Homo sapiens: one gene and its partners. The protein of the gene in region 3 interacts with the protein of the main gene of each other region in a pairwise test. Each region holds a gene or a part of one and is shown on either strand. Other genes may lie near its edges.

What was found.
Region 1: the proteins of XRN1 (region 3) and PLEKHG2 interact in a two-hybrid assay, tested with the Homo sapiens proteins (one large-scale study listed by BioGRID).
Region 2: the proteins of XRN1 (region 3) and C1GALT1 interact in a two-hybrid assay, tested with the Homo sapiens proteins (one large-scale study listed by BioGRID).
Region 4: the proteins of XRN1 (region 3) and TMEM50A interact in a two-hybrid assay, tested with the Homo sapiens proteins (one large-scale study listed by BioGRID).
Region 5: the proteins of XRN1 (region 3) and VWA5B2 interact in a two-hybrid assay, tested with the Homo sapiens proteins (one large-scale study listed by BioGRID and IntAct).
Region 6: the proteins of XRN1 (region 3) and PRADC1 interact in a two-hybrid assay, tested with the Homo sapiens proteins (one large-scale study listed by BioGRID).

The regions. Positions count from the first base shown.
Region 1 is NC_000019.10:39,411,044-39,415,573, reverse strand, and holds the start of PLEKHG2 (pleckstrin homology domain-containing family G member 2), read right to left. Parts: upstream 2,906-4,530; 5' UTR 2,162-2,905; intron 1,796-2,161; exon of another isoform or gene 1,683-1,795; intron 1,510-1,682; 5' UTR 1,488-1,509; coding exon 1,379-1,487; intron 583-1,378; coding exon 314-582; intron 236-313; coding exon 135-235; intron 1-134. UniProt on the Homo sapiens protein: May be a transforming oncogene with exchange activity for CDC42. May be a guanine-nucleotide exchange factor (GEF) for RAC1 and CDC42. Activated by the binding to subunits beta and gamma of the heterotrimeric guanine nucleotide-binding protein (G protein).
Region 2 is NC_000007.14:7,230,837-7,234,737, reverse strand, and holds part of C1GALT1 (glycoprotein-N-acetylgalactosamine 3-beta-galactosyltransferase 1), read right to left. Parts: intron 436-3,901; 5' UTR 419-435; coding exon 199-418; intron 177-198; exon of another isoform or gene 1-176. UniProt on the Homo sapiens protein: Glycosyltransferase that generates the core 1 O-glycan Gal-beta1-3GalNAc-alpha1-Ser/Thr (T antigen), which is a precursor for many extended O-glycans in glycoproteins.
Region 3 is NC_000003.12:142,441,475-142,445,375, forward strand, and holds part of XRN1 (5'-3' exoribonuclease 1), read right to left. Parts: intron 1-3,901. UniProt on the Homo sapiens protein: Major 5'-3' exoribonuclease involved in mRNA decay. Required for the 5'-3'-processing of the G4 tetraplex-containing DNA and RNA substrates. The kinetic of hydrolysis is faster for G4 RNA tetraplex than for G4 DNA tetraplex and monomeric RNA tetraplex.
Region 4 is NC_000001.11:25,344,594-25,348,494, reverse strand, and holds part of TMEM50A (transmembrane protein 50A), read right to left. Parts: intron 2,222-3,901; exon of another isoform or gene 2,118-2,221; intron 1-2,117.
Region 5 is NC_000003.12:184,232,490-184,236,390, reverse strand, and holds part of VWA5B2 (von Willebrand factor A domain-containing protein 5B2), read right to left. Parts: intron 3,214-3,901; coding exon 2,994-3,213; coding exon of another isoform or gene 2,982-2,993; exon of another isoform or gene 2,937-2,981; intron 2,816-2,936; coding exon 2,658-2,815; intron 2,126-2,657; coding exon 1,994-2,125; intron 1,761-1,993; coding exon 1,636-1,760; intron 1,239-1,635; coding exon 1,083-1,238; intron 240-1,082; coding exon 129-239; intron 49-128; coding exon 1-48.
Region 6 is NC_000002.12:73,227,197-73,230,327, forward strand, and holds the end of PRADC1 (protease-associated domain-containing protein 1 precursor), read right to left. Parts: intron 3,018-3,131; coding exon 2,917-3,017; intron 2,375-2,916; coding exon 2,265-2,374; intron 1,767-2,264; coding exon 1,599-1,766; intron 1,379-1,598; coding exon 1,258-1,378; 3' UTR 814-1,257; downstream 1-813. UniProt on the Homo sapiens protein: Plays a role in the modulation of physical activity and adiposity.

The DNA of each region.
Region 1 (4,530 bases), on a different chromosome or scaffold from region 3:
GATCCCTGATCCTTGCCCAATGTCACAACCCCACGTACCAGCCTGGACAGGACACTACGAAGCTCCGAGGTTTGGATTAGGAAATAGACCCTCCAACCAATCAATGCCCCCTGCCTGTCCCCCCTGCCCCTGACCTGCTGAACTCGTAGATGTCCTCAATGTTGGCAAACAGCGTGCCCACCTGCTCCACGCTCAGCCCCAGGACCCCGCCGTCCAGCAGAGGGCCCAGGTAGTCCTGTTGGGATGACTGGGGTTATGGGGGCCAAGGGGCTGGCCTGGGTACCCACTGCCCTCTGGTGTCTGCCCGCCTTACCTCCACGATGCTGCGGAGGTCCCTGACATAGGCCCGTTCTGTCTCCACGATCTCCCGGGCCACACGCTCCAGCCTTGAGGGTCTGGCTGAACCTGGGATCCCCACCGGAGAGAGATGTAGGCGGATGGGAGGCCCTGGAAGGGGCTCTGGCCTGGAGGCTGAGCAGGCTGGAGTGGGCCCAGGGGCTGGATCCCCCTCAGAGCCCACTGTGCTCAGGGATGTGGAGCTCCCAGAACCTCGGGGGGAGGCCATGGTGGGGGCTGCAGGAGCTGCTGGGGTGTGGAACAGGAGGTCAGAGAAATCTCCCCATGCACGGACTTCCACAGCCTTTCATGCGTTCAGCCCACACCCTCACCCACACCTGTCCAACAGCTTTCCCACAGGCTCCTTCCTCCTCTCCCCACTGCCCTGTCTTGGTCCAGTCCCATCCTCTCCCATCAGGGTCCTCTCTGGACTTCTGGCCTCCATTTCTCTAATCCACCTCCATGAATCAGCTAGGTAGACATTTATTAATTTGTCTATCTGACTGTATTACTCCCGTGAGTGTAACCCCTTCATGCCCCTGGGGATAAAGTCCAAACTCCTCAGATCCACAGGGCACTGGGCAATGTGGCCAACACAGATCCCTCTAGCCAGTTCTCTTCCCACAGCCACCCCTCTTCTTACACTCTGGATGCCAGTGACACTCAACTTCTTTCAGTCACTTACATGCAGCCTTTTCTCACCGCTGGGCCTTTGCACATGCTGTTCCTTGCATGTAGAATACTCTTCCTTGTCTTTGCGCAACTCCTTCCCCCTAATCTTCCACTTCCCAGTTGAGATGTTCCCACCTCCAGGAACCTTCCCCTGACCTTCCGAGCTCAGAGGATCCACGATCACAGCCCTGACCACTCTGCCCAGCGCTGCCCCCTCTGGCCTGTCATTGCCTGGGGATGGGCCCGCCTTCCCCACCAGACTCGGAGCTTTGTGCGAGTTGGCCTGGGGTTGTCTCCATCACCCTGCCTTGACAGCATTGCCAAGGAATAAAAGCCCCACAGGCTCCGCCGCCCCTGCCTCTAGGCTCACCTGTCCGAGTCTCACACACGGTGCCACAGTCACACACTTCACCTCTTCGGCCACACCCGAGGCTTGGGCTAGGTTTGGAGAGGCTCAGTCCTTGGGCTCCCTCAGGCATGGCTGAGCGGCCCAGCAGAGTCCTGCAGAAAGAGCCCCTTCTTGGATATCAGGACCCCATGGGCCTCTCCGCCGCCCAGACTCACAGATGGGGGCTGGGAATTAGGAGCGTGGTGTAAATCCAGGGAGGGGCCCCTGGGAGTAACTAATGGGGGAGGCACAAAGTGACAGAAAGAAGGGGACAAGGAGAGAGAACCTGGCGAAAAAGATGGAAAGGCTGAGACAAAGAAGAGTGAGCGGAGCAGGAGGCGCAGAAGCTGCGAGTCCCGTTTGTCTGGGGCCGGAGGCTTAGGGATCCTGGGAACGTTTGGGCTCCAGCTGGAGCGGAGGGCGAGGGGCAGGGCTGGGAAAAGCCGTGGGCGGGAGGCCGCGGGGTCCCAGGGGAGGGCGGAGGCTGGGGGACCGGATGCCAGGGTCCTGCAGACGGCTCCCTCCCCCGCCGAGGGCTGCGCGCTGGGGCGCTGGCCCCGAGCCCTCGCACCCCCTCCGGCCGGTCTCTCCGAACCCCGATCGCCGTCCCCACAGCCACAGCCTCCCCAGCGCCTTCCCACACCCCTCCAGCCCCCAACTCCCGCCGGCGCCTCGGCTCGCCCCCCGCCGGCACGCCCCCTCATTGTTCAGCAGTGGCGCCGCCCCCTCCCCCAGTCCGCCTGGGCCCCTCGCCTCCCCCCTCACCTCCCGGGGAGCCTCCAGCCCCGGCTCGAGGCAGCCCGGCTCCTGCGCGACCCCGACGCGGTCCCCAGGGAGGTGCGGAGCCCAGACTCAGGGGCGTGAACTTCGGGCTCTCAGGCTCCAGGAATAGAATCTGGGGTCTCTCGGAGACTGGGGTCCCGCAGTCGGAATTTCTCAGTGTTCTACGTAGGGGATGCTAGGAGCCTCGACTCTGGAGTCTCAGATGGCGGCGCTGGGGACCCACATTCCTAAGTCTTCTAGGTAGGGCCGTGGGGTGGGGGATGGATTTCTGAGTTCCCCTAATTCTAGGGGCAGGAATGAAACTCCCTCCAGGTGGGAGCACAGGGGGGTCCCAAAGTCCTGGGTCCCCTTGAAGCGATGGCCGCTGCAGCCCGAAACTGGTTGGGGCGCTTAGAAGTCCGGATCTCAAGTTCCTCCAACGCGGGGTCTTGGGATCGGAGCCCTGGAGGGAGTCTGCGGTCCTGGATCCTGAGTTCTTGAAACGGGGATACGGGGCGCTCGGCCTCCAGGGTCTCGCGGGGTGACGTCCGGGCTCCCGGCTGCTCCAGGAGGGGGCGCTGCGCACCTGGATGGCTCAAGTCCTCCAGCCTGGGCGCCGGGGTCTGGACCTCGGGGTCTCTCAGGATGCGGTGCAGAAATTCCGGACGCCCGGGTCCGAGCCTCTGGACCCCTCGGGCTCCCGGCTGGGTGTCACGGGGCTCGTGTGACGGCGGCGGCGCCACATCTGGGGCGGGAGAGTCCGATCCCAGCTGTGAGGCGGGGGGCGGTCGCCCGGGGCTTCCCCTCCCCCGCTGTCGCCGGGGCTCACATCCTGTTCCCGCCTGCGGGGGGGGGAGGGGCTGCCTTCCGGCCGACCCGCCAGCGAAGGGTTAAGACCCCACCCCTTGTTTTGAATATTCATGAGGAGGCGTGTCCTTCTGGTAGGCGACACCCCTACATTCCAAACGCCTCGCGGACTTTTCCCTTTTACAGCAAGGGCCGCGAGGCGTGAGAATCCGGAACTGGCAATGCACTGTCTCCTATTGGTCAATGCAAAATGTTTAATTTGCATATATAACACAAGGCGGGGCCCTCCGGTGAGGTCACGTGGCTATGAACCACTGAAGAAGACCCCGGCGCAGGGGTGCGGCCGGAGCTCCAGTGGCGCAATCGGTTAGCGCGCGGTACTTATATGACAGTGCGAGCGGAGCAATGCCGAGGTTGTGAGTTCGATCCTCACCTGGAGCACTTTTTTTCCCCATCAGTTTTTATAAACTTACACATCTAATAAACCAACCAAAACATCTACATCACTTAGATGAATGAACGTTTCTATCTTTTGAATTATTGGGCTCAAAAGACTCCTAGGGCTTTGGCGACGGTCCTTTGGGTGTTCTGTATTGTAGGGAGGTGCCGTTTCCGTCCCAGCCACCAGGTGGGGGTATCGTCTCTTATTAGATGCTCTGGGCATGGAATTGTGTGCAAACAGTTTGACTTCTGTAGAGATGTGGGTCCTCGGCAAACTGTATATGACTCTGCCTCCTCTGTATTTCTCTGTCTTTTTAATGCCTCCTTTACAGATGAACATAGCTATCTGTCTTGGAGTTTTCGACCTCTGTTGAAAAGGAAAACTATGTTTTTGAGTCGACTTGTTTTTTCAATAAATATTGAACATTCACTATGCCTGGCTTCCTTTAGCTGTGTGTAATACAGCAGTGAACAAGTAGTCCCTGCCCCTGAGGACGCGACATTCTAGTGGGGAGGCAGATTGCTGTCAACATAAGAATTAAGTACATTTTAATGTTAGGTGGTGATGATAAATGTCATGGAAAAAGTCGAGCAAGGTAGGGAGGATGGGGTAGTTGGAGGTGGGGTGTGGATTGCAACAGCAGTGGTCAGGGAGGATCTCACAGAGAAGGCAACTTTTGAGCAGAGACATGAAGGAGGGGAGTGAGCCATGGGGACACCAGGGGAGTGTTCAGGCAGAGGGAACAGCTAGTGCAAAGCTCCTATGGATGAAGCAGACCAGACTTGGTAGAGCAGCTAGGAGGCCAGTGTGGCTGGAGCAGAGTGGCCAAGGGGGAGGGTAAGCGATGGGTGCCAGATTGTGTGGGCTGTGGGGAGGACTTCGGACTTTGACTTTTATGTGACCTGACTCAGGTCTCATAACAGGCTTCCTTTGGTTGTCTCGTGGGGGAGTGGAGAAAGGAGAGACTGAAGGCAGGGGCTAGAGCAGAGACTGGGGCTGGGGCTGCTATGAAGATGCAAATGGCAGACGATGTTGGCTAGGACCAGGGTGGGGGTCATGGTGGGGGCAGGTGGATAGTGGATCTATTTTGCAGGTGGATCAGACAGGATTGCTGTTGGACTGG
Region 2 (3,901 bases), on a different chromosome or scaffold from region 3:
AAAAACGAATTCAAAATTAATATCTTATTCCCTAAATAAATCTGAGTTTTAGCAATTCCCTTCTCTTGAGGCAAACCAAGAATTATTTTTAATATCTGGAATATATAGCCCATTTTAATTAACAGATACAGACAGGAATATGACAAAATTTAGACTAAAATACTGCTTATGTTTACTGCTTAATAAAGTAAACCATACCTTTATGTTGGCTAGAATCTGCATTGAAGTTCATTTGTCCTTCTAGATGATTCTGTCCATTATCATCTGAATGCCTTGCATGAGGATCATTATGAAGAACATTAGGCTGGGTGTCAACCTTTTCTCCCAACAAAATACTAAATAGCTGAGAACATAAAAGAAATCCTATTGCTGATCCACAGAGGAAGGTTAAAAAATTCAGCCAGGATTTAGAGGCCATTTCCCGAAAGTGTATTTCTGTAAGAACAAAAATTAGCAGGATGTTATAAAATCAAAGCTGTATACATAACCGGAGTAAAAATTCTGGTAACATTTAGCTATAACGGAAAGTTAATTTCTAACAGTATTTAGCTATTATCTATGAGTTTACCCCTCTATTTGCTGCTAAAACAGCACATTATGGAAAATCCATAAAACCAGATTAATTAGTAGGACAGTCACAGTTGGGGTGGGGTATGGATGAGTATGTCAGTATTGCACACAGAATTTCCTATTCTTCCCACCAGGATCCTTTGTGGATCCAGGGCTTCCTGTCGTGTTGTTTTTCTTTCTTTGCTGTTAACTCTGAGTACGGAAGTCTACTTCTTTTTCTCTGGTAGCAACCACCACCCCTTCTCCAACCCAAAAGTTAGCAAACCCTTTCTGTAAAGAACTAGAAATAAAATATTTTTGGCTTTTTGGGTCTCATGTGGTTTCTGTTGCATCTTCTTCTTAAACAATCCTTTATAAACGTAAAAAAACACTTGTAGCTTGTGGAGGACTAGGGTCAGCACAGTTTGAGGACCCATGGACCAAACCTGGCCTGCTACCTGTTTTTGTAAATAGAGTTTTATTTGAACACACCCATGCCCATTCATTTATATACTGACTGCGGCTACTTTTGCCCTAAAACAGCAGAGTGAATAGCTACAATAGAGGCAATATGTCTCACAAAACCGTACCTAGCCCTTTATAGAAAAAGTTTGCTGGCTAGGCACAGTGGCTCATGCCTGTAATCCCAGCACTCTGGGAGGCCAAGGCGGGTGGATCACTTGAAGTCAGGAGCTTGAGACCAGCCTGGACAACATGGTAAAAAATTAGCTGGGCATGGTGGCATATGCCTGCAGTCACAGCTACTTGGGAAGAATAAGGTGAATACTTGGGAAGAATTGGTAAGAATAAGGTGGGAGAATCACTTGAACTCAGAAGGCGGAGGTTGCAGTGTGCCAAGACTGCACCACTCAACTCCAGCCTGGGCAAAAGAGTGAAACTATCTCAGAAAAAAAAAAGAAAAAGTTTGCTGACCTCTGCTCTATACTGCAAGATCTAGATTTTGGATGGAATCTATAATATTAACGAGATTAAGTAGGGTACCTGGGACACAGATGCCTGTTGAACTGCCCCACAACCAAACATTGACATAAACGCCCTTTTTAAGCTTTTGTTAACAATTACTATATGGTGAAGTTATAAACTTCTATTAAATTCCTTAAAAGATTGGTCTTAACTCTAGTTTCCTATTCCTCAAGATAATTAAAAAAATAAGTTTACTAAGCATTTATTATATACCAGAAGCTGTCCATACATTATTTCATTTTAAATAAAATTTAATTTCAATGTCCTTTTTCATTCTCACTAAACCCGTCTGCAGATGAGGAAAGAGAAATTTTAAAAAGGTAATTTTAAACAGGTAATTAATTCATATAGGCTGACACAATCAGAAGGAGCCACAGTTTGAATGTAGGTCTGTGTGCTTAAAAAGCCCATGCCCGGCTGGGCGTGGTGGCTCACGCCTGTAATCCTAGCACTTTGGGAGGCCAAGGCGGGTGGATCACCTGAGGTCAGGAGTTCAAGACCAGCCTGGCCAACATGGTGAAACCCCATCTCTACTAAAAATACAAAAATTAGCCAGGCGTTGTGGTACGTGCCTGTAATCCCAGCTACCTGGGAGACTGAGGCAAAAGAATCACTAGAACCTGGGAGGCAGGACTGCAGGACCGAGATCATGCCACTGTATTACAGCCTGGGTGACAGAGCAAGACTCTGTCTCAAAAAAAAAAAAACAAAAAAAAAAAACCCACGCCCTTTCCATTACATTTCTCAAACTCTTCACCTAATCACCACTAACAGCAGAGGGCAATGGGCAGTGAAAGTAGAGGTCTGGGAAATATAACCCTAAAAATCAAAATTGCTTTGAAATAGTTTGTGAAAGCAAAAGTACAAACCAACAATCACCACTACAATAATAAAAACAAAACAACTTCATGTATTTCTGGAATGGCTGACTAGGTTCTTTTAGTACAACCAAGTGCAATCAGAAAAACTGAACAAAATGTAAAAAAATATAAATATGTGTTTGAAGACACTGGTAAGATATCAAGGCAGTGAGAATTAGTAGGGCCAAAATCTGGAAGAAGGAAGGAAAGAGGCAGACCAGACATCTGGCACTGCTCTATCCTCAAGACAATGACTGATTCTGAAAGAGAAAACAGCAAGGGCAATAAAGCTAAGCAAAAATTAATGTCCAAAGTCTGCTTAGGAGAAGAGGTCCTGAAAAACACCTATGCTCTTATCAAGGACTCTGAAAGGCTACAATCTGAGAATAAGAACAAAACAAAAATAGACCAATCTTTACAACGGCTGAAGTCTACGTTAGAGTCATCTCAGCCACTGACTGGATGATCCGCCCTAGCCTAACTGTAAAAATATTCTCCTGGAGAAATATAAAATCATGAAGAACCTCAAATTATCATGACGACTTTTTTTTTTTTGGTATACAACATGGACAAAATTTTGATACACAATGTCCAAAACAACCAGGCATCAAGATGAAAATTACGGCTAAACACAAAAAAGTAGACAATAGAAACAGAGCCAAAAGACTCAAATAAGATTTTCATATTTTTAGCTTAGAAATAACTATTCTTAATAAAGTCAAGAAATTAAATGGCAAGATTAAGAAATTAGGCATAGAATAGTCACAGCTGAAGAAAAAAATTAATAACCTAAAAAGCTAGGTCAGAAGAAAATACGCAGAATGAAGTATGGAAAAACAAATGGATTGAAAAAGAATTGAGCAAAAAAACAGAATAAAGTGAAAGGGTCTAATGTAAGTGTTAACTGGAACCTTTGAGGGAAGAGACATAACTCAGGAGAAGTGGTATTTAAAGAAATAATGACTGAATATTTTCCGAAACTGACACAGTACCAACCCTCACATTAAAAATCTACAAAACCCAATGAAGATTACAAAGAAAAAGAAAATGTTACCTAAGTACATCAGTCAAACTACTGAAAACCAAGGACAGAAAAAAAAACTTCAAAGGTGTAATAAGATTGACAGCTGACTTTTTAGCAGCAACAACAGAATCAAGACTGCAGTGAACTATTTTTAAAGTGCTAAAAGAACAGAACTACCAACCTAGCATTCTGTATCCAGCAAAAATGTCCTTCAAGAATGAGCCTTAAAAACATGTTCAGAAAAACAAAACCTAAGTGAATTTATCACTAACAGTTCTATTTCTAATTCTTCAGGCAGAAGGAAAAGAATTTCAGATAAAAATTCAGAGATGTAGGAAGGAAGGGAGAGTCATAAAAAGGGTATGTATGTAAGTAAATCCAAATAAATATTGGCTATAATAAAACATTTTTTGAAAGTCTCACAAGATATTAGTATTATTACCATTAAAACAAATTACAAAACTGGCATCAAAAAGTATAAGGA
Region 3 (3,901 bases):
AGGTCCGAGGGACGAGCTTGCAACCGTGGCATACCTGAGTAAGAAAACTGATGTAGTGGCAAAGGGTTGGCTTCATTGTTTATAGGTAGTGGCTGCAGTTGCAGTCTTAGTATCTGAAGCAGTTAAAATAATACAGGGAAGAGATCTTACTGTGTGGACACCTCATGATGTGAATGGTATACTCACTGCTAAAGGAGACTTGTGGCTCTCAGACAACCATTTACTTAAATATCAGGCTCTATTACTTGAAGGGCCAGTGTTGCGACTGTGCACTTGTGCAACTCTTAACCCAGCCACATTTCTTCCAGACAATGAAGAAAAGATAGAACATAACTGTCAACAAGTAATTGCTCAAACCTAAGCCGCTCGAGGGGACCTTTCAGAGGTTCCCTTGACGGATCCTGACCTCAATTTGTATACTGAATTCGCATACAATTCGTATACAATTCATTCGTATTCATATACATACAATGAATTCGTATACAAAAAGTCCTTCATAGAAAAAGGACTTTGAAAAGCAGGGTATGCAGTGGTCAGTGATAATGGAATACTTGAAAATAATCCCCTCATTCCAGGAACTAGTGCTCAGCTGGCAAAACTAATAGCCCTCACTTGGGCACTAGAATTAGGAGAAGGAAAAAGGGTAAATATATATACAGACTCTAAATATGCTTACCTAGTCCTCCATGCCCATGCAGCAATATGGAGAGAAAGGGAATTCCTAACTTTGGAGGGAACACCTATCAAACATCAGGAAGCCATTAGGAAATTATTATTGGCTGTACAGAAACCTAAAGAGGTGGCAGTCTTACACTGCCGGGGTCATCAGAAAGGAACGGGAAATAGAAAGGAACCGCCAAGAGGATATTGAAGCCAAAAGAGCCGCAAGGCAGGACCCTCCATTAGAAATGCTTATAGAAGGACCCCTAGTATGGGGTAATCCCCTCCAGGAAACCAAGCCCCAGTACTCAGAAGAAGAAATAGAATGGGGAAGCTCACGAGGACATAGTTTCCTCCCCTCAGGATGGCTAGCCACCGAAGAAAGAAAAATACTTTTGCCTGCAGCTAACCAATGGAAATTACTTAAAACCCTTCACCAAACCTTTCACTTAGGCATTGATAGCACCCATCAGATGGCCAAATTATTATTTACTGGACCAGGCCTTTTCAAAACTATCAAGCAGATAGTTAGGGCCTGTAAAGTGTGCCAAAGAAATAATCTGCACTGCAGGCCATACATTTCAATCCCTGTATCTTTTTATTTTTATTTTTATTTTGAGATGGAATCTCGCTCTGTTGCCCAGGCTGGAGTGCAGTGGCGCGATCTCACCTCACTGCAAGCTCCGCCTCCTGGGTTCACGCCATTCTCCTGCCTCAGCCTCCTGAGTAGCTGGGACTACGGGCGCCCAACACGACGCCCGGCTAATTTTTTGTATTTTTAGTAGAGACGGGGTTTCACCGTGTTAGCCAGGATGGTCTCAATCTCCTGACCTCGTGATCCACCCGCCTCGGCCTCCCAAAGTGCTGGGATTACAGGCGTGAGCCACCGCGCCCGGCCCAATCCCTGTATCTTTAACCTCCTTGTTAAGTTTGTCTCTTCCAGAATCGAAGCTGTAAAACTACAAATCGTTCTTCAAATGGAGCCCCAGATGCAGTCCATGACTAAGATCTACCGCGGACCCCTGGACCGGCCTGTTAGCCCATGCGCTGATGTTAATGACATCAAAGGCACCCCTCCCGAGGAAATCTCAACTGCACCACCCCTACTACGTGCCAATTCAGCAGGAAGCAGTTAGAGCAGTCATCGGCCAACCTCCCCAACAGCACTTAGGTTTTCCTGCTGAGAGTGGGGACTGAGAGACAGGACTAGCTACATTTCCTAGGCCGACTAAGAATCCCTAAGCCTAGCTGGGAAGGTGACCGCATCCACCTTTAAACACGGGGCTTGCAACTTAGCTCACACCTGATCAATCAGAGAGCTCACTAAAATGCTAATTAGGCAAAACAGGAGGTAAAGAAATAGCCAATCATCTACTGCCTGACAGCACAGTGGGAGGGACAAGGATCGGGATGTAAACCCACGCATTCAAGCCGGCAACAGCAACCCCCTTCGGGTCCCCTCCTTTTGTATGGGAGCTCTGTTTTCACTCTATGTCACTCTATTAAATCTTGCAACTGCAAAAACAAACAAACAAACAAAAACAAACTAAAAATAGAGCTACCATATGATCCCAGCAACCCCACTGCTATCTGTGTTAATATAACCCAAAGAGAGGAAATCAGTATATCGCAGATATCTGCACTCCTTTGTTTGTTGCTGTACTGTTCACAATAGCCAAGATTTGGAAGCAACCTAAGCGTCCATCAACAAATGAATGGATAAAGAAAATGTGGTATATACACAATGGAGTACTATTCAGCCACAAGAAGGAATGAGATCCTGCCATCTGCAACCACATGGGTGGAAATGCAGTTCATTATGTCAAGTAAAATAAGTCCAGCACAGAAAGACAAACATTGCATGTTCTCACTTATTTATGGAATCTAAAAATCAAAACAATAGAACTCATGGACATAGAAAATAGAAAGATGGTTCCTAGAGGCTGGGAAGGGTAGTCGGGGAGTCAGGGGAGAGGTGGGAAAGGTTAATGGGTATAAAAGAAAAACTGAAAGAACGAATAAGACCTAGTCTGGGCACGGGGGCTCACGCCTGTAATCCCAGCACTTTGGGAGGCCGAGGCGGGCAGATCACTTGAGCCCAGTAGTTCAAGATCAGAGTGGGCAACATGGCAAAAACCCATCTCTATTTTTAAAAAGATTTAAATTAAAACAAACAGAACAAAAAAACACAGGCCAGGCACGGTGGCTCATGCCTATAATCCAAGGACTTTGGGAGGCTGAGGTGGGCGGATCACTTGAGGCCACCAGGAGTTGGAGAAGAGCCTGGCCAACACGGCAAAACTCCATGTCTACTAAGAACACAAAAATTAGCTAGGCGTAGTGGCACACGCCTAATCCCAGCTACTTGGGTGGCTAAGGCACAAGACTTGCTTGAACCGGGGAGGCAGGGGTTGCAGTGAGCCGAGATTGCGTCACTGTACTCCAGCCGGGGTGACAGAGCGCGACCTTGTATCCAAAATAAAAAATAAAAAAAAAGAATGAATAAGACCTACTATGTGATAGCACAACAGGGTGACGATAGGCAATAATTTAAAAACAACTAAAAGAGTGTAATTAGATTTTAACACAAAGGATAAATACTTGAGTGGATGGATACTCCATTCTCCATGATATGATTATTACACACTGCATGCCTGTACGAAAACATCTCATGAACCCCATAAGTATATACACTATGTTTCATAAAAAAAAATAATCATAATAATCCCAGGCTTCATTTCACTTTTTTAAAAAATACTGTTTTACAACATACTAATATACCATGTCTATTTTAATATGCATTTCTATATGCTATATGCTATAGCTAATAAATTAATTCACTCAAAAAATATTTACTGAGTACCCATTCTGTTATGCTGCTTTGGTTTTTTCTTTTTCAGGCACCTCTACTATTTGTCTTCTTTGCCTATCTTTCTTATCGTTACTTTTTCTTGAATCTTTTAAATCTATTTTATTTTTTAAAATTTCATCTTTCCACTGCCGATTGTTTTCTCAAATGGTATCATTTGCTCGTCTTGCTTCTATTTGAGGCTCAGCTCTGCATTTTTTTTTCATTTACTTCTAACTTTCTCTGTCATCTCATTCTCACATTTTCATAATTGATACACGTTGTTCTTTCATGTCTTACCTCATTTTCTTAATGCCTTTTAACTCATTGTGAAATAGATAATAGTTTTGGTTATAATTTTGGTCTATTTTGTGTGCATTTTTTTCATTGCAA
Region 4 (3,901 bases), on a different chromosome or scaffold from region 3:
CAGGATGGTCTCGATCTCCTGACCTCGAGATCCTTCCACCTCGGCCTCCCAAAGTGCTGGGATTACAGGCGTGAGCCACCGTGCCCGGCCTACCCTACATTTTTAAAATTAAAAAATACAGAGTAATACACAGAACATTTATTAATATTTTTAAAGCCACAAAATCAGAGAACTTTTGTAATAAGAGAAAAAATAATAAAGTCATTAATGAAAGAATAGCTGCTTTTTGACTCCTATCCATTTGAATTATAATTAACTAACAGTTTTTGTTTAAAATTATGGCCTGACACTATCTGACACTATAATAAAAAGATGTAAACTGAAGCCAAATAGATGATAAACATTTATAAAGACATGAAGTCAGCTCTGCTATAATTATGTTAATGCAACAGAATGTAAGTTTAGCAGGAAACACGTTTGAATAGTACATTCAAGCTCATATACAGCTATAATTCCCCTCCATAGTCAGACTTGCTACTGCTTCAAAATGGAACAAAATAATTTTTTAAAGATCTGAGAACAAAAGCAGGACAAAAATACAATCACAAAAATAAAACTTTTAAATCTAAACCAATGTTGAAATTTAGGTGTCAGCTTTCTAAAAGAATTCTAACAGCATCATTATTACGGTAAAATAAATTGCAACAAGATGGAAAGAACTAGAAATAGCTGCATACTGGCTGAACTTCAAAGAAAAAGACCACAGCCCTTTGCTATCAGTGGCTTCTGAAGTCAGACCTTTACTTCTGCGAATGAATAACTACTCTGGCACTGACTCCATGCCAGGCACAGTCAAACTGGCTGCCCTTAGCCACTTGCTTTACTCTGAAAATACAAGTTACTGTGTTTACACTTAAGTAACTGTAGCAAAATTTAAAAATGTGTGTAATTTTCAACTTGGATTACCTGGAAGCCTGTATGAGATGACTCTACAACCTAAATTAAAAGTCTACAGAAGGCCGGGCATGGTGGCTCACGCTTGTCATCCCAGCACTTTGGGAGGCCAAGGCAGGTGGATCACCTGAGAGGTCAGGAGTTCGAGACCAGCCTGGCCAACATGGTGAAACCCTTCCTCTACTAAAAATACAAAAATTAGCTGGGCACAGTGGTGGGCGTCTGTAATCCCAGTTACTCAGGAGGCTGAGGCAGGAAAATTGCTTGAATTCAGGAGGCAGAGGTTGCAGTGAACCGAGATCATGCCACTGCACTCCAGCCTGGGCAACAGAGCAAGAGCCTATCTCAAAAGAAAAAAAAAAAGGTCTACAGAAAGCTGATGGACAATGGTAGAGGTCAGGATGGGGGCTATACAGGTGTGATGGAAGTGCTGATTGAGAATGTTCTGGGGTGATGTTTTAAATCTTGATCTAGATGCTGTTTACATGGGTGTATATATAAGAAAAATTTGTTGAGATGTATATATGACTTGTGCACTTTATGTATCTCACTAAATGCGTTTTTTGTTTGTTTGTTTGTTTTGAGACAGAGTCTCACTCTGTCTCCTGGGCTGGAATCCAGTGCCGTGATCTTGGCTCACTGTAATCTCTGCCTCTCAGATTCAAGTGATTCCCCACCTCAGCCTCCTCAGTAGCTGGGACCACAGGCATGCACCACCATGCCCGGCTGATTTTTGTATTTTTTTGTAGAGACAGGGTTTCACCATGTTGGCCAGGCTGGTCTTGAACTCCTGACCTCAAGTGATCCGCCCACTTTGGCCTCCCAAAGTGCTGGGATTACAAGTGTGAGCCACCATGCCTGGCCAGAATGCATTTTATATTACATTTTTAAAATAATAAAGGCAGAGAGCACAGTGACTCACACCTATCATGCAGCACTCTCGGAGGCCAAGGCAGGAGAATCACTTGAGACCAGGAGTTCAAGAACAGCCTGGGCAACATAGTGAGATCCTGTCTTTACAAAAAAACTGTTTAAAAAATAGCTGGGTGTGGTGGTATGTGCAAGTAGTCCTAGCTACTGGGGAGGCTGAGGCCAGAGGACTGCTTAAGCCCAGGATTTTGAGACAGTAGTGTGTTATGATCACACCATTTGCACTCCAGCCTGGGTGACAAGCGAGGCCCTACTTCTAAAACATTTTTTTTTTAATTTAAAAGGAAAACCTGATTCTTTTGTAGTTCTTAGGCACGATGATTGGGTGTTCATGTGCATGTTTGAGATGTGCCTCCCTCAAACCTTGTTCTTACATCAGCACCTTACACGTCTAACATGAAAAGAAAAGAAAAGAAAAAAAAGAAAGGCCCACAGAGAGAGTTGATCCCTAAAGGAAGCATTCATAATTAAGGAAACAAAGGCCCTTAGAAATTAAAACATGAGAACTGAAATGCAAAAATGTTTAACAGATTGGAACATAAAATAAAAAGATAAAGAGATGAGAATTCTAAGAAAACATATCGGCCGGGTGTGGTGGCTCACGCCTGTAATCCCAGCACTTTGGGAGGCCGAGACAGGTGGATCACTTGAGGTCAGGAGTTCAAGACCAGCCTGGCCAACATGGTGAAACCCGTCTCTACAGAAAATACAAACACCAGCCAGGCATGGTGGTGTGTGCCTGTAATCCCAGCTACTTGGGGAGGCTGATGCAGGAGAATCAATTGAGCCTGGGAGGTGGAGGTTGCAGTGAGCAGAGATCATGCCATTGCACTCCAGCCTGGGCGACAGAGCAAAACTCCATCTCAAAAAAAAAAATAAATAAATAAACAAACTAAAATAAATACTTTTTTCTTTTAAATTTATTGAGACGGAGTCTCCCTCTGTCGCCCAGGCTGGAGTGCAGTGGTGTGATCTCGGCTCACAGCAACCTCTGCTGCCCAGGTTCAAGTGATTCTTGTGCCTCAGGCTCCCGAGTAGCTGGGACTACAGGCACGCAACACCGTGCCTGGCTAATTTATTTTTTAGTTTTTGAGACAGAGTCTCACTCTGTCGCCCAGGCTGGAGTGTAGTGGCATGATCTCTGCTCACTGCAACCTCCGCCTCCTGGGTTCAAGCGATTCTCCTGCCTCAGCCTCCCGAGTAGCTGGGACCACAGTCACGTGCCACTATAGCCGGCTAATGTTTTGTATTTTTAGTAGAGACAGGGTTTCACTGTGTTAGCCAGGATGGTCTCGATCTCCTGACTTCGTGATCTGCCTGCCTCGGCCTCCCAAAGTGCTGGGATTACAGGCGTGAGCCATTGCGCCCAGCCTTTTTAAATTATTTTTAGTAGAGATGGGGTTTCACCACGTTGGCCAGGCTGGTCTCAAATTCCTCACCTCAGGTGGTCTGCCCGCCTTGGCCTCCCAAAGTGTTGGGATTACAGGCGTGAGCCACCATGCCCGGCCAAAGTAAATACTTCTTGTATCCAAAAAAAAAAAAAAAAAAAAGAAGATGTGGTAACTGGAAAAACAGTGGATTCAACCCTGATCAACAGGGGAGGGAAGTCCCATGGTGACAGTGCTGCAGCAGGCTTACACAGTCATTAATTCATAATGAAACAGACAGATACGGGCTTCTGGGATGTTGATTTCTAAAACAAAAGAAGTTATAATACATTAAAGAATATAATTGAGAATTTGGGAAAAAAATAAAGATGTGATAATAGTAGAAAATGCAAGAAAACAAAGAAAAGGCAGCTAGAAACTCTAGGAAAAACAAAAAACTGAACAAGGCTACTACATTCCACATAGTAACTGTCCAAATTAGAACTGCAGCATTCAAGAAGAATAAAATGAATCCTAAAGAAAATATACATTCTTTCTACCAACAACCACCAAAAAAAAACAAAAAACAAAAAACAAAAAAAAACAATCAGAAACTCTAGGAAAGGTCGGGCACAGTGGCTCACACCTATAATCCTAGCACTTTGAGAGGCCAAGGCAGGTGGATCGCTTGAGCCCAGGAGTTCAAGACC
Region 5 (3,901 bases), about 42 Mb from region 3:
CGGAACCTGCAGGGTCTCAATGCTCTCGCAGATCAGCTGCACAGCATCCTGGAGCGAGAAGGCACAGGCTGGGACGCACTGGGCTGAAACCTCTCTGTAAGGCCCCCAGATCCCTGGACCACACTCACATCACTGCAAGGCCGGCTCTCTGGGAAGAGTGGCTGCACCAACGTCCCAAACACGGCCAGGTTGATAAGCGTCTGGGGCGGGAGGGACTTCACAGCCAAAACAATGGCATCCTGTGGAGGGCCAGGGAGGGCGGCGTGAGGCCGGCCCCATGGGCCCTGATACAGAGCAAGGGAAGCCAGATCACTGCGTTATCCAGGCTGTGATTCAAGTGAGAGGCTGTGGTAACCTGGGAGAGGCCCTGGGTGTGAGGGAAAGTGTGCCAGTGAGCCCCCAAGTGTGTGTGAGAGACTGTGTGGGACTCTGGAGGTACACATGACTGTGTGTGGGACTCTGGAGGTATACATGACTGTGTGGGACTCTGGAGGTATACATGACTGTGTGTGGGACTCTGGAGGTGTACATGACTGTGTGTGGGACTCTGGAGGTATACCTGACTGTGTGGGACTCTGGAAGTACACATGACTGTGTGTGGGACTCTGGAGGTGTACATGGCTGTGTGTGGGACTCTGGAGGTACACATGGCTGTGTGTGGGACTCTGGAGGTACACATGGCTGTGTGTGGGACTCTGGAGGTACACATGGCTGTGTGTGGGACTCTGGAGGTACACATGGCTGTGTGTGGGACTCTGGAGGTACACATGAAACTTGAGTGTCCCTGTGATTGGAGTGACTCCCTGTGACTGAGTGCGAGTCTATGTGTGAGAGGCTCTTGGAATCCTGGAGAGATGTGTGTGCGTGAATATGAGCAAGAGAGCGTGACAGTGTCTGTTTGGCGGTTGGAGCAGGGCTGCTGTCTAAGGGAATCCCCTGAGGAGTTGCCATCTGCTTCCTCTTTGGAAGATGGTGTTTGAAGCAACAAGGTAACTCCTGGCTTCAAGAGGCTGCCCCCAGCCCTCCTCAGACCCACTGCCCCACCCAACCCCCAGGCCTGCCCACACCACACCCCCACGGGCCTTGTGTGCCACGCTGCTGCTATCCAAAAGGAAGAGTAGCTCCCGAGTAGCTGTCCCCAGGTGTCCGGGCTTGGAGCTCAGGTCTGGGCAGAAGCTCAGCGCCAGCACGGGGTTCAGCAGGATGTCCTTGTGGAAGCGTCGCTGCAGGAACCACACCTGAGCGGGGGAGTCCCAAGTCAGCCTGGGCAAGGCTTAGTGCTACTTTGTTGAGGGTGGGCAGTGGGACTGGCTCTGGGGCCTTTTTCTGTCTGATCCACCCAGAGGGGACATCTTTTTGTAGTAATTCGAATAAAGGCAGGAGCAAAGGCAGGTGGCTGTCTTCTGTTTATATCAGACCTAGCCTCCATCCTCTGAGACACACCCCAGAGAGATTCACATCGGCCCTCCAATGACAATACTCATCTGTCCTCTGTGATGGTTGGTGGCAGCTGTGGAGAGATCTTACCGAGAAAAGAGGCCTCCCCGCACCCATTCCAATGTAAGCCTGCTTGCCTGCTCCTTGTGCACAAATGCAGCCAAGGCCAGGGGCCAGGCCAGGCTCCTATGGCGGTACCTGCCGGTCCCCATCACTGTCCCTTCGCTGTAGCCTCTGAAAATCTCGGCGGGCCCTCACCCGGGCCTCATATTCTGCTGAGCTCAGGCTGCCGCCCTCCAGCATCAGGTGTGGCTGATGGGGCTCTGAGAGGAGAGGACACAATTCTGTCAAGGAAGGCCCTGCCTCTGGACCCCAAGTGCCCAGTTTCACTGTCCAGGAGGAGCCTGCAGGTCCAGCCTTCCTGCACCACAGGCTCTGCCCTCACAGATGACTCAGTCCATCTGGCTGGGGCCCAGAAACCTGCACTTAAGAAATGCTTCCCCCATTCATGTAGAAGCAGGTCAGAGCCGGCCCACGGTGTGTCCCAGTCTCTCACCACTGGGGTGCAGCAGGATCTCCAAGGCCCGGTCACAGTGGTGGCCCTCTGCCAGTGTGACACAGATGGTGGCTGCAGAGCTGGCATGAGGGGGGGCATCTGCCCGCAGAGCATGAGAGGGGCTCTCCAGGCCTGAGGGACATAGAGGCAGGAAGGGGAGATGTAGCCATAACACCTTCCCAGGGACAGCAAATGTTGGCAGGGGTCATGGCTGATTCAGTCAGCTCTCAGAGTCTGATCTATATGGGGTCAGATGGACGAGGGAGGATGTGCCTGCTTTCATGGGCTGGGAAGTAGATTCCAGCAGGGTTTCTGGCTGGTCGAAGAGTCATGCATCAGCCAGGTGCTGATTTAGCATTCACCCCCCACCTTCTGTGTAAGGAAAACCTACTTCATCACAGGTACTAGTCCCATTGTAAGTATCTCTCTTCCCACTGCTGGGTGGGATGAGATATAAATAAATTACCTTGATAAAATTGGGGTGTGTGTGTTGGGTAGAGGTGACCAGGGGATGCTCCCACCACTAACCCAGATGTTCCGGAGGCTGGGGTCCCTGTCTTTTTGTCCTGTGTCCCTCCTATCCCTGAGCCTTATTTCCCTTCCAGTCACTACACTGGGTGGAGTGGGCATCTGAAAAGAGGGCAGGCCAGCCAGATGCACCCACCTGCAAGCAGGCATGGCCCAGTCACCAGCATCTCGAAGGAGAAGGTATATGGGGCAGGGCAGCGGGCAGGGCCTGAGAACACGTCCCGAGGGGCAGCCAGCTCCTCCCAGGCCAGCCCTTCCTCCTGAAGGCTGCCCACCCCGAAGCAGCTGGTGGGGCTGGAAGGGAGCATGAGGAGGGTCACTGGGCCACTGTGAAGGCCCCTAAACCCTCCGGCTGACTGGCCCCAGCCCTTCCTCACCCTTCCCATCCCTGGGTACCCTGCCAGTGCCCCCTCACCCGCACTAGACCCAGAGAAGCCGAGGGAGGGACGAAGAGAATCACCATAGGCCCAACCTGTCGTCACAGAGCCCCGGAGGCCTGGGGGGCCCCGGCGGGCCTGGCGGGGCCAGCGGGGTGAGCACAGTGGGCAGGGCCACATGCAGCACCCCGTCAGGCCTTGAGGGCAGCTCCCGGCTGCTGTGCAGGGTCACCGTCATGGTGCCAGCCGCGGCGATAATGCCTGTGGGCAGCACCAACGTGGACCGGGCCTGGGCCAGATCCAAGACAAGATGACCTATGATGGGTGAGAAATGGGGTCAGAGCATGCTGGAAGCAGAGGAGAGGGAGGAAGCTAGATGTGGAAGCAGGCATTGGGTCAGGGAGCCTGGGCAAGGGGGACTTTGCGTGTTGGCACTAGGCTAATGCATTGGTGACGCAGGATGGAGGCATGAGATGAATGATGGCAGGAGAGGCAGACTAACTGTGAACAGATCTGGCTGTCATCAGGCAAGAGCAGCAGTGACATCCTTGCTAATGGAAGGCTGAGGAGAAGGGGCCATGTCCACTCTCAAGGCCCTGGGAATACCCACACCCTCTGCCCCTCTCCCCCTGCCTGCCTCTTTCCATTCAACCCTTGGCCACCATCCCTTGTGGATAGACATCTCCCTGTGGCCTGGGACCCCACTCTGCTCATAAATTTCCTGCTCCTGAACCATCAGGAGCTCCCCCATTGCCCACTAAGGTGGCTCCAGAATTCTCTACTCCTCCCGGGCAGGAGGAATAGAGAAGCAGGAAGCAGGCTGGAGGACATAAAGCTCCATTTGCACACTGCACACACTGTTTTATTTAGCTCCTAGGTTTGTTTGGGGACTGGTGGGGCTGCTAAAGGAATAATGACCAGCCATGTACAGTGGCAGCTGTGTACACCACCGACGTGGTCTGGCCCCAGCCCACGTTCACAGCCCTACTGTACCTCACTTCCT
Region 6 (3,131 bases), on a different chromosome or scaffold from region 3:
GTTCTCAATAAAATGTGAGTGGTGAGAGGCCTCTGCAGGAATGCTTTGTGGCAAGTGGCTGGGCAGGCTGCCCCGGGCGTGCAGCAGGCACAGGTGGGTGCAAAGGAATACCAATTAGACCAGGTAATGGTAGGAGATGGGAGCTCCAGGCTCACCAGCTTGGGCTCACCTCTACTGTTATTTACACCCTGCTATGCAAATGTTCTAATGCCCAAGAGCAAGGGTCCTCTGAGGTCCAGTTTGGGTGGTTTTTAAATTTTGAGACAGGGTCTCACCTTGTCACCCAGGCTGGCATGCAGCAATGCAATCATAGCTCACTACAGCCTTGAACTTCTGGGCCCAAGTGATCCTCCCACCTCCGCCTCCTGAGTAGCTGGGACTATAGGCTCACACCACCACACCCAGCTAATTTTTAATTTTTCTGTAGAGATGGGATCTTGCTATGTTGTTGCCAAGGCTGGTCTTGAATTCTTGGCCTCAACTGATCCTCCCACCTCGGCCTCCCAAAGTGCTGGGATTACAGGCATGGGCCACCATGCCTAGCCCTGAGGTCCAGTTTGGACCCCCAGTTCCAGGCTCTAAGATGAGTCTTCTCCTGAGGGGCTGAACTCTGGCTTCCCAGGGCTTCCTTGGCTCCTAGCAGGAAGCTGTGCTGGGATCTAAGACTAGCAGTCTGAGCACTGGTCCCAAATGACCTAGGCCAGTCACTGTCCTCTGTGGGTGTTTCCTTTCCTCAGAACGACAGTATGGGACGATACGAGTGAGTTTGAAGGTCCTGCCCACCCGTGTGCTCTTATTCTAGGACACAGTTGCAACCCTGATGAGAAGCTTTATTGCTAAAAAGTCAGTGAGGGTTTATTGAGTCCCCAAACACCAGCTCTTTAAACCACTCCAACAACTGCTGTGAAGGTCACTGTGCAGAGACCCTGGGTAGGGGAGGCTGGAGCCAGGTGAGTGTGACAGGTCACAGATGGCTCTCAGGCCACCTGCCTTCAGCTCCTTTTGTTTCGGGTTCTAGCCAGAAGCCCTGGGGCCTGTCTCTTGCCTCTTCTTGTAGCATGAGACACCCTTGGGGGCCCTGGGGAAGGGAAGGCCAGTGGTGTGGCTTCCCTTTCAGCCTAGCAACGCCCAAACCCTTTTCCTCTACCTGGCTCCACTTGTCCCCAGATGCTATCTCCAAATTCCAAGTAGCAAAATTCCTGGGTTTCCCCTTCCCAGCTCAGAGTCACTTATGGCTGGAATGTGGGACAAACTCTTCTACCAGAAGGTCCAGGGCGGTTGCAGCAGCTCAAAGGTGGGGATGCTGGTGACATTGACTGGGATGGAAATGATGGCCCATGGCAGCCCATGCTGTTCCAGAGAGCGGCGGATCATGTAGCTGGGAGGGCATGAAGAGAGGTGGTGACGGTCACTTTCTTGGTACCCCATCATGCCCCACTGTCCCCATCAATCTGGGAGTTCCAAAGCCCGAGATCTTTTTTTGCCCTCTAACTGAAGCACCCCAAGTTGAGGCCTGCAAGAAGGGACTGGTGATTACCCCTGACCCAGTCATGGCGCCCAGCCTGGTGCTGATAAAGCCAGAGGCAAGGAGCCCTCACCCGTCTCGGCCGAGCAGGAAGAGGGCGGGGATGTCAGCTGTGCGCTGGGTACTGTCCTGGATCATCTCCACGTAGAAGCTGTCATTGTCAACTGCGTTGTCAGAGATGATCACCGCCCGCCCGCCGTGCTCCTGGACCACCCGAGTCTTGGAGAGGAAGGAGCAGCCCCTGGAAGAGGTGGTGATAAGACCAAAGGAAAGACAGGTCCTAGCTCCCCCTTCCCCAGACCATCACCCTGGGAGTATAGAAGGCAGACTATGAAGAATCTGTTATAAAGGCTCATAAGTAAATAGCTAAAAGCATGGATAATTTAAATACATTTCTTTTTCCTTTTTCTTTTTTTTTGGAGACTGGGTTTTGCTCTGTTGCCCAGGCTGGAGTGCAGTGACGTGATCTCGGCTCACTGCAGCCTTAACATGCGGTCAAGCAATCCTCTCACCTCAGCCTCGAGTAGCTGGGACCACAGGTGTGCACCACCATGCCCAGCTAATTTTTGTATTTTTTGTACAGACAGGGTTTCTCCATGTTGCCCAGGCTAGACATTTCTTAAAGACGCTTAAAAAGATGAAATTTTCAAAAACAGCTCTTTCAAAGCACTACTACCAATAATCTCAGAATCTGCCGTATGCCTGCCCACTCCTCGTGTCCTGCCTGCCCACTCCTTACCCCCTCTCCACCAGAGCAATCTGGTCCTGGATGAAGAAACCGTTGCTGAGTTCCCCGCAGGCCTCTGGAGGTTCAGCGGGGACAAGGTGAATCTGCTCATACCTTGTGTGCTGAAAAACATTTAACATTTGGACAGGTGAGAGTGTAATGAGACACACCTGCTTTAGGACTGGGCTGACAATCCCATCTTATTGGCACCTTATAAAGTGTGAAGGAAACATGGAGTGGTTTCTGTATCGCCAGACACTTAAACATTTTTACTTAATTCTCGCAAAGGCCTATCTGGTTGTCCTACACCACCCTACCCTTCTATGAGATAGGCAGGGGACTTGGTTGTAGATCCAGAGAGAGGAAGTGATGTGCCTTAAGTCACATAGTTCACAGGTAGAGCTGGCAGAGGAAGCTGGTGCTCTTGGCTTTTCACTTCATGTCCCCTAAAAAGACAACTTGTCCCTCCATGGTGCCTAGGTTTATATTATACTCAGGGGAGTAGCTGGAAGAGCTTCCTTTCTGTGCTGCAGCTCATGGAAGGCAGAGCTGATTCTGCTCCCTTCCCTGTCCCAGCACTCAGGTGGGATGAGAGGGTCACTGCAGCTCAGTGAGGGGAAGGGGGAGGTTGAGGATCAGAGATCAGGGGCCTCCCTTAACTTACAAAGATACCACCAAAGTCCTTGGCAGGTGTGGCTGTGAAGATGTATCGAATGTCCCCAGGACTCAGCACTTGAAAGTACAAATAATCATGGATACGGAAGCCTGAAGGATAAAGAGTACAGGTAAGAAGCCTCCCAGGAACAAGCTGGTTCAGGTTCAGATCCCAGACCCTGTGTCTTCAGCTGGGCTGGCTATAGTCTGGGCTCAGGGTCCTGG